Homo sapiens: one gene and its partner. The protein of the gene in region 2 purifies or fractionates together with the protein of the main gene of each other region. This does not show direct contact. Each region holds a gene or a part of one and is shown on either strand. Other genes may lie near its edges.

What was found. Proteins that work in one complex are often made in the same cells at the same time.
Region 1: the proteins of ADCYAP1 (region 2) and SAV1 purify together in Homo sapiens (affinity purification with mass spectrometry; 4 studies listed by BioGRID and IntAct, with this or other methods). This does not show direct contact.

What each region holds. Positions count from the first base shown.
Region 1 is NC_000014.9:50,666,379-50,670,125, forward strand, and holds the start of SAV1 (protein salvador homolog 1), read right to left. Parts: upstream 1,929-3,747; 5' UTR 1,590-1,928; coding exon 1,496-1,589; intron 1,123-1,495; exon of another isoform or gene 1,004-1,122; intron 1-1,003. UniProt on the Homo sapiens protein: Regulator of STK3/MST2 and STK4/MST1 in the Hippo signaling pathway which plays a pivotal role in organ size control and tumor suppression by restricting proliferation and promoting apoptosis.
Region 2 is NC_000018.10:907,848-911,594, forward strand, and holds part of ADCYAP1 (pituitary adenylate cyclase-activating polypeptide preproprotein), read left to right. Parts: intron 1-417; coding exon 418-516; intron 517-697; coding exon of another isoform or gene 698-743; exon of another isoform or gene 744-1,585; intron 1,586-1,598; coding exon 1,599-1,788; 3' UTR 1,789-3,747. UniProt on the Homo sapiens protein: PACAP is a neuropeptide involved in diverse array of physiological processes through activating the PACAP subfamily of class B1 G protein-coupled receptors: VIP receptor 1 (VIPR1), VIP receptor 2 (VIPR2), and PACAP type I receptor (ADCYAP1R1).

The sequences.
Region 1 (3,747 bases), on a different chromosome or scaffold from region 2:
CATTCCCAGTTAGAAAGCAAATACCTTTAAAACAAGACAAAAACCTGAATATGCAGACCCTCTTATTATTCATCAAGTAAACAATATTGGAGACACTCATATTAATAAGCTTCAGAAACTAACACTGGACAGAAACAAATATCTGAATAAATAAGGCTCAACACTTGATGTAACGACAACAAAACAAAGTAGATCAAAAGTTATTTGCTTAACTGTGACAAACATTAACAAAACTGCACGTTCTACACATGTACCCCAGAACTTAAAGTATAATAAAAAGTGTGACAAACATAATTCACGATTTCAAGTAATGTCTGATAAACTTTATTTGCAGCAAACAGCAAGCTATCACTTAAAAACAGCCAGAAACCTAACTGCATGTGTGACTGAAAATCAAGTTGTTAAAAAAAAAAAAAAACAACTTAAAAATCAAGTTTCGAGTTACTGATGTACTCAACTGACATATATTTTGTTGAAAGTATTGCAAGTACCACCATAAATCTGGAAGGCTGACAATGTGGTTATGATGGAAAAACATGCTCTCCCATCTGTGTGATCTTGGGCAAATACTAGAAACCTAACTTTCCCAATTACAATATGAGGTAATACTTAAGTCACAAGGTTACTACCAGCTTCCAAGAAGGAAACTTAAGCAAAGGGCCCAGGGCGCAGTAAGAGCACCAAAATACCAGCTCCATGCCTCACAAATGTCCTGAACACACAAGAATTAAAAATTCAAGAGATTCAACTCAAAAATCAAATACTTACATTAAGAAGAAAAGCAGCGGGGGACCGGAGGTGGGGATTGGGAGTGGGATCTACCCTATTAAAAAAAAAAACTTTTCGAGGGGGGGGTTCTCTAATACGATAGAAATTATTTTGAGTTGCCTTCTTGGAATCTCACGAATATAGCCAAATACAAAGGCTTTTGGCTCTCTGCTCTGCTGTGTAAGAGTGATGAGGCTTTGGGTGGCGGCTACAAGAACGACGGTATGCTTTTCACCTTCTCAAGTCTGCATCCGGCAGCAGGACTAAGGAATTCTGCCCCAGAGTTCGCACAACTTGCAGCACAGTCGAGAGACACCCGCAATGTTTGCAAACATGACGCACATCTCGACGCATCTAAAAGAGTAAAAAGTGTCCCTGTCTAATTACTTTTACTCCTATAGCATTAGGTGATAAGCAATTTAAATGTTTCCTACTCTCTCTTCCAGTAATCAAAACCAACAACTCTGCCTGGTGGGGCGAGGAAGTCTGTTATTTTTAGGGGGTGCTCTTGGGGGGGTTAGGCGCGGGGGGGACTAACCCAAGTTTCTTACTCTTATGGGCTTTCAATCAACGAATACCACTTCAGACACAAGAAAATCTCAAAACCAGTATTTCACGCGACCAAGGACGAAGGAGAAGCCCTGGAGACCCGCCGGCGCCCCCGCCAGGGTCCCCGGAGCACCTGGCCGCCTGGGCCAGGTGTGGGCACGCCCCGCCTGACACTCACTCCGAAGCAGAGGCGACGTCTCCTTCTTCACGTACTTCCCCTGCACCTCGGCCGGCTTGGACACTTCGTTTTTGGTTTTCTTTCGGGACAGCATCCTTCTCGACGAGGCCCGAGGCCGCGCTGAACTGCCTCCCTAGGGCTCCGCGCCGGGCGCCGGCCGTCTCCGCCGCCACCTCCGCCGGCGCCGCCGCCTCCTTCCCTCCCGAGCCGCCGCCTCCGCCGCCGCCTGTCCGGAGCCCGGGGTCGCCCGCAGGGACTGCCGCATGTTCAGGGCGCTAAGCGCGCCGGCCGCCGCTCAGTCGCTGGTCAGTTCCTTCCCGGAAGTCGGCCCGCTCTGCGACGCTGCTCGGGGACGCCGTGAGGAAAGCCCAGCGACGCCGGGCCAGGGCCAGGGCCATGGTCCGCCGCGGGCCGCCGAATAACCGCTACCACTACCGCCGCCGCCGCCTACATCCCGTAAACTTTCCCCGCGGCCGCTGGGAATTCTGGGAAGCTCGACGCAGCGCGGGCCGCCGCTGCCCCTCCCCCACCGCGGCTCCAGGCGCGGCTCCGGCGGCGGGACTCGGGTGCCGGCGCTCTAGGCTACCGGGCCGTCCCCGCCGAGCTGCGGCTGTCCTCACTCATCCTCAGCGAGAAGCAGGTCCTGCCGACTGAGAAGATGAAGGACGAAACCTGCCCCGCTGAGTGCGGGAGTTCGTCGCATGCGCATGTCGTGGAACCTACTCTCCACGAGTTTTTATTGTTGTTGCTTTTGTACCCCCTCGGGATCCCTAGCGGAGGCAGTGACTCTCTTTCCCCCCAAGACGTTGTTCCCTGTTTGAAGGTGTTCTTCCTAATGTTTCCTAGGCTGCTGAATTCAGCTCTCTAAAAAATGCGGAATGCTAACCATGACTCCCAGGCAAGTGCTACACCAAAGCATCTATTCTGCTGGAAACGTTCATGCTGATTAACTAGAAATAAGTTGATCCTCTACTGAGTATCAGGGAGTGCGTTTTTCTATAACAGGAAAAAACGGAAGAATGCAAGATGGAATTTCCAGTACCTCTTTTTAAGATACAATTGGTGTTAGCATATTACAATTATTTTATTGCATCATCACTATCATTAGTATGATTAATAGCCACATATTTCCTCCTGACGTTATGTGTTATGATCTTAGAATTTTGAAGACTTTGACCACTGCGAGTCGGGACCGGGAATTTTCTATCTAAAATAATAGACTCTACTTCCTTCTATATAACTTAGCAAGACTGCCAAATGTACAGGATAACATTTGGAAAATAAGATTGGATTCATCCCCTAGTGACCAAATTAATGCTTTAATAATGAGGAATGCTTTCCCTGAGATCTAAAACATCTCACAAGAGATCTAAGACATATATCACAATTAACAAAAGACATGGAATTTTTTACCACGTAAGATTAAGAAGATGGTCAAATGTTTTACCATGAGCAAACAAAGGAGACATTTGATCTAGTGTCTGTCTCCATATGTTCCCTTGGTGCAGATCTCCCACAATTCATTCATTAACCAGGAAATACTCATTACCCACTGCGCTAGTCGTTTGTGATAGAGCAATAAGCAAAACAGACAAAAATCCCTACTGTCATGGGAAAGAGAAAAAAATGACAAAAAATAAGCAAAACATACTATGTTAGATAGTGATAAGTGATGAAGTGAAAATAAGAGAGGACTCACAATTTTTGAGAGGGTAATAGAGGGACCAGAGAAGGCTCATGAGGAGGTGACATTGGAGTTAAGTGACAGAGTGAGGAAATTGGCCATGCAGCTAACTGGAGGAACAATATTCCAGGCAGAAAGAACAGCAAGTGCAAAGTCGCTGCAAGTGGCCATGTTCCTGGCAGATTGGAGGAACAGTAAGAGGGTTTATGTACTGGAAAAGACGGGGAGACGAATGGGGAATGCAGTTAGAGAGTAACAATAGCCACGGCACCTAGGGCTTTGTAGGCCATTGTAAGGAATGTTACTTTGAGCAGAGGAGTGACATGATCTGAGTTAATGTTTTCATAGGACTGCTTTGGATGCTGTGTGGAGAGTAGACAATGGAGCTAAGGGCAAAAGGGAGATCAGTCAGAAGTTATTGCTGGCTTGGACCCAGGCAATAATAGGTGGAGAGGTAAGTGGACATATTTTAGACATATTTTAAAGAAAGCCAACCAAATTTGCTGACATTGAATATGGAGTGTGGGAGTATCAATCACTGCCATGGGTATGAAAATCTTAATAAACA
Region 2 (3,747 bases):
GGGAGGGGCAGTGTGGTGACCCACCCAGGATTTTTTTTTTTTTCCCGTGAAAGTCCTCAAGCCTGTCCTCTCCCTGGCCCGATCCTATTGCAGCGACAGAAAATCAGCAGCGGGCGGGTCTGTGTGGACCTGAGGGCCGCGTGGGGACCGAGGGGGGCTGTGGCCCAAAGAGTGGCAGTGAGTGGCGTCAAGGAACCCACACTCCGCATCTGCCACTCCTAGAGCCGGGACTAGCTCCCGATCCTAGCAGTTGCTCTCGAGATCATCCCGGGAGTTATTGGCGAGTTCTGGGCCTCTGGAGGTTTCCCTGTCAGCCTCCCCGGCCGCCGAGGGGGCGCGCGCCCAACAAGGGGGTCTCTAGCGGCCACCTGGGGACAGAAACAGTGACCCTGGGCGCGCACTTTGCCTCCCCGTTAGAGATGTCGCCCACGGGATCCTTAACGAGGCCTACCGCAAAGTGCTGGACCAGCTGTCCGCCGGGAAGCACCTGCAGTCGCTCGTGGCCCGGGGCGTGGGGTAAGAGTTTGTGGAAGGATTAACCTGCGCGCGCCGGGGTGGGTGCCTGTGCGGGGCGCGCGGGGCGGGCGGCGGTGGGTGCCCGTGGGGGCCAGGGTGAGTCTGCGCCCCTGGGTCTGGGGTGGGCATCCGCCACGGGTCGCAGTTGGAGATTTTGAAGTGGCACTTTAAATTTGCCCAGAGAGCTCTGGAAGAGGCAAAAAGGGAACGCGAGCCAGGGAGTTTGATCCGTTTTGAATGAAAAGAAAGAGAAACCAAACCAAACCTCTCAGTCATCCAAAACCTTCAGGCTTCCAGGGAGGTTTTGCTATAATTTTCTCTAAGCATGACTGTTTCTGGGGGAGGGGAAAGGGGTGGTTGTATTTACTGAAAATTCAAATCGAAATAATAAATGGCCAAATGTGGACACTTATGGACCCAAACAGTTTTGCTCACGCCAGAGAAACTGAGAGCACAGGGCTTGTGTGAAGCCTATCTCGGCAGAAGGCAACATTCTAATAAAGCCCGTGGGAAAACAGATTACATTTTCGCCATGAATAAGTCATGCAGTGAAAAATATTGCCTACAGCCTGTCGACTTATATTATTATCACGTTTTTCAACTCGGCGTGAGGAGGGAGAGGAGTGTTCATATTTGACTAGGAATTGCAGGATCGATGCAAACTCCAGGGCAGCAGCCAGACTGGCATATGTAGGGCTCTCCGGTTACTTTCTCTGTATGTCGCGGGTGAGAGGAACAGCGAGGACAATTTAGCGCAAACACACGAAGGGTCGGATCTCAAGGGGGCAGCGCTGGGAGAAAGGTTAGGCTTGAAGCGCGCGTCGCCTGCCCGGATCTTATCCCGGGCCCCCTCCGCAGGGTTTGGTGCCAGGAGATCCTGCGTGGGGAGGGGGGCATCGAGGGGCTGCCGTCTCGGCCCTCCCCACGGCTGCTTCCAGGCAGAGGCGGGCGACGCGGTGGGCAGTGCGAGCCCCGGGCCCTCCCCGAAGGCTCCCGCGTGGGGTGGGGCCCGCCTGCTCCCCGCGGCGATTGAACCTGTGTCTCCCGCCCCGCCACCCTCTTCCCGACCCCTTTGCTTGCAGTGGGAGCCTCGGCGGCGGCGCGGGGGACGACGCGGAGCCGCTCTCCAAGCGCCACTCGGACGGGATCTTCACGGACAGCTACAGCCGCTACCGGAAACAAATGGCTGTCAAGAAATACTTGGCGGCCGTCCTAGGGAAGAGGTATAAACAAAGGGTTAAAAACAAAGGACGCCGAATAGCTTATTTGTAGCGATGGGTTACCAGCTACCCTGTGTATACAGCCCTGACGCAATGAAAAGTCGTTTTCCAAACTGACTCAACAGTCATCGCTCGTGTGTTCTATCCAAACATGTATTTATGTAATGAAGTAAAGCCATTAAATGAATATTTTGATAATAATATTGTTTTTCTTTCTACAAAGCACTAGAGAATGCACAGATATACTTTGTGGACCAATTATTGATATATATTATAAATATATATAAAGAATATATATATATATATATATATATATATATATAAAGTATAGAGAGAAGTTCATACAAAGCGTGCACAAGGATTGAAAATTCGCCCGAGCTGTTTATGTTTTTATAAAAATAAATAGAAAAGTAGACAATCATTGTTTTGAATATTACTCCTATTTTTGTAAACTGGAATTAAAAGGATAGTATTTTTATCCATGACAGGCCTGAAGATATTACTACTTACCATTTGCTACTGTACATAAACAATGATGCCCTGCTCCAGGGAGATTTTGAGGTAAAGATATGGAGAATTGCTGAAGGGCATTCTTTCCCAGTGAGTCTCTGGGGCAGGCTGCTTCAATCCCAGCCTAACTCAACTGGGCTCTGTCCCCCTGGTTGGGTGGCAATTCCAATATTTCTGCTTTCTTTGATTCTCCTTTTATGTGTAGTTGTCTCTCTTCAGACTCTCAGCCCAGAAGAAAATTCTCCTGATAAAACAACAGCTCGATCCAAATTGTGCTTCTCCCCAGAATTCACGCCTCTCCCTAGGAGAAGAGTTGAGGAACTGTACAGAAAAGGGCGGCTTCGTTAGACCGCTCTCTTTTCTGTACTTCCTGAGTGGCCAGGGAATCTAATATCCCCAAATTAGGGCAATTGGAACAAAGTGAAGGACATAGAGGTATATTGGAAGAGGCAGAGCCTGAGGTGGTAGGAGGAGGACCCTGGAAATGGACTGGTTTGAGATTGCCCCAGGTCTGGGAAGCTGAGGGCAAATCCAGTCCCAATGGTCCTGACTTTGGGCGCTGGGTATTGGAAATGGATGCAAAGTACAATGTGTTTTTCTCCAGTGCTGTCCATGCTTCTCATCTTGTGAAATGGCCAGGATCCTCTCCTTTGAAACCTGCTCTGTAGGAGCTACCCTTTTCCTTTGTGGTTTTATGGAGACCTCTCCTTCCTACCCTCCTGCACTGTTTAAGTACTGTTTACCATTTTTCATTCACTTCTCTTAAACTTGTGAATGCTTCTCACTTTTTTTTTTTGTTTGATGCAGGCACTTATTGTAAATTTTAGAAACCCCTCTGTAGCCACTAGTAAGTAATTATGCACTAAATATGAACCCTTTGTTTCTTGTTTATTGAGTTTGTAGGTAAAATGTATTTTTCTACATTATTGCTTATTGCTTAGTAAAATTTATTTCATAAAACCAACCTTTGTCATATTAGAATGTGTAGTGTTCACATGTTGCTCAGTTTTGCTAACTGATAAATCATTTAATCCTCTTCTTCATATGTATGAGTACTATCTTATATCTGTGGTCAAGAGTGAGGTAAGCAAGCTCCAACAGACCCTGAGAACCTACGCTTGTATCCTTTCTTTGGCTAAAGAAAGCATGTCTGTTTCCTGTCAATTCTTTGAACATACAGAGTAATCTTTATAAACAAAAGAACCTTCACCCAGCAATCAGATCGAGCAGCAACAGACAAACCAGCCAGCCAATCTCCCAAATTTCAGGCACAAGTTTATTTATTTATTTTTTTATGTTTTGAAAAAAGAAGATGAAGAAGAAGAAAAAAAAAAGAACAAGGAAAGATTAAACGTTAGCTTGTAAAGTTTAAAGGACCTTTCCTTTTCCTTTACGGATTTGATCAGTATGAAGTCATAAATCAAAGAAAACAGAATTGGATTTGCATTCCCAGGCGGGATGGATGCTGCCAGGAGATCACATTGCAAATAGTGAAAACAGA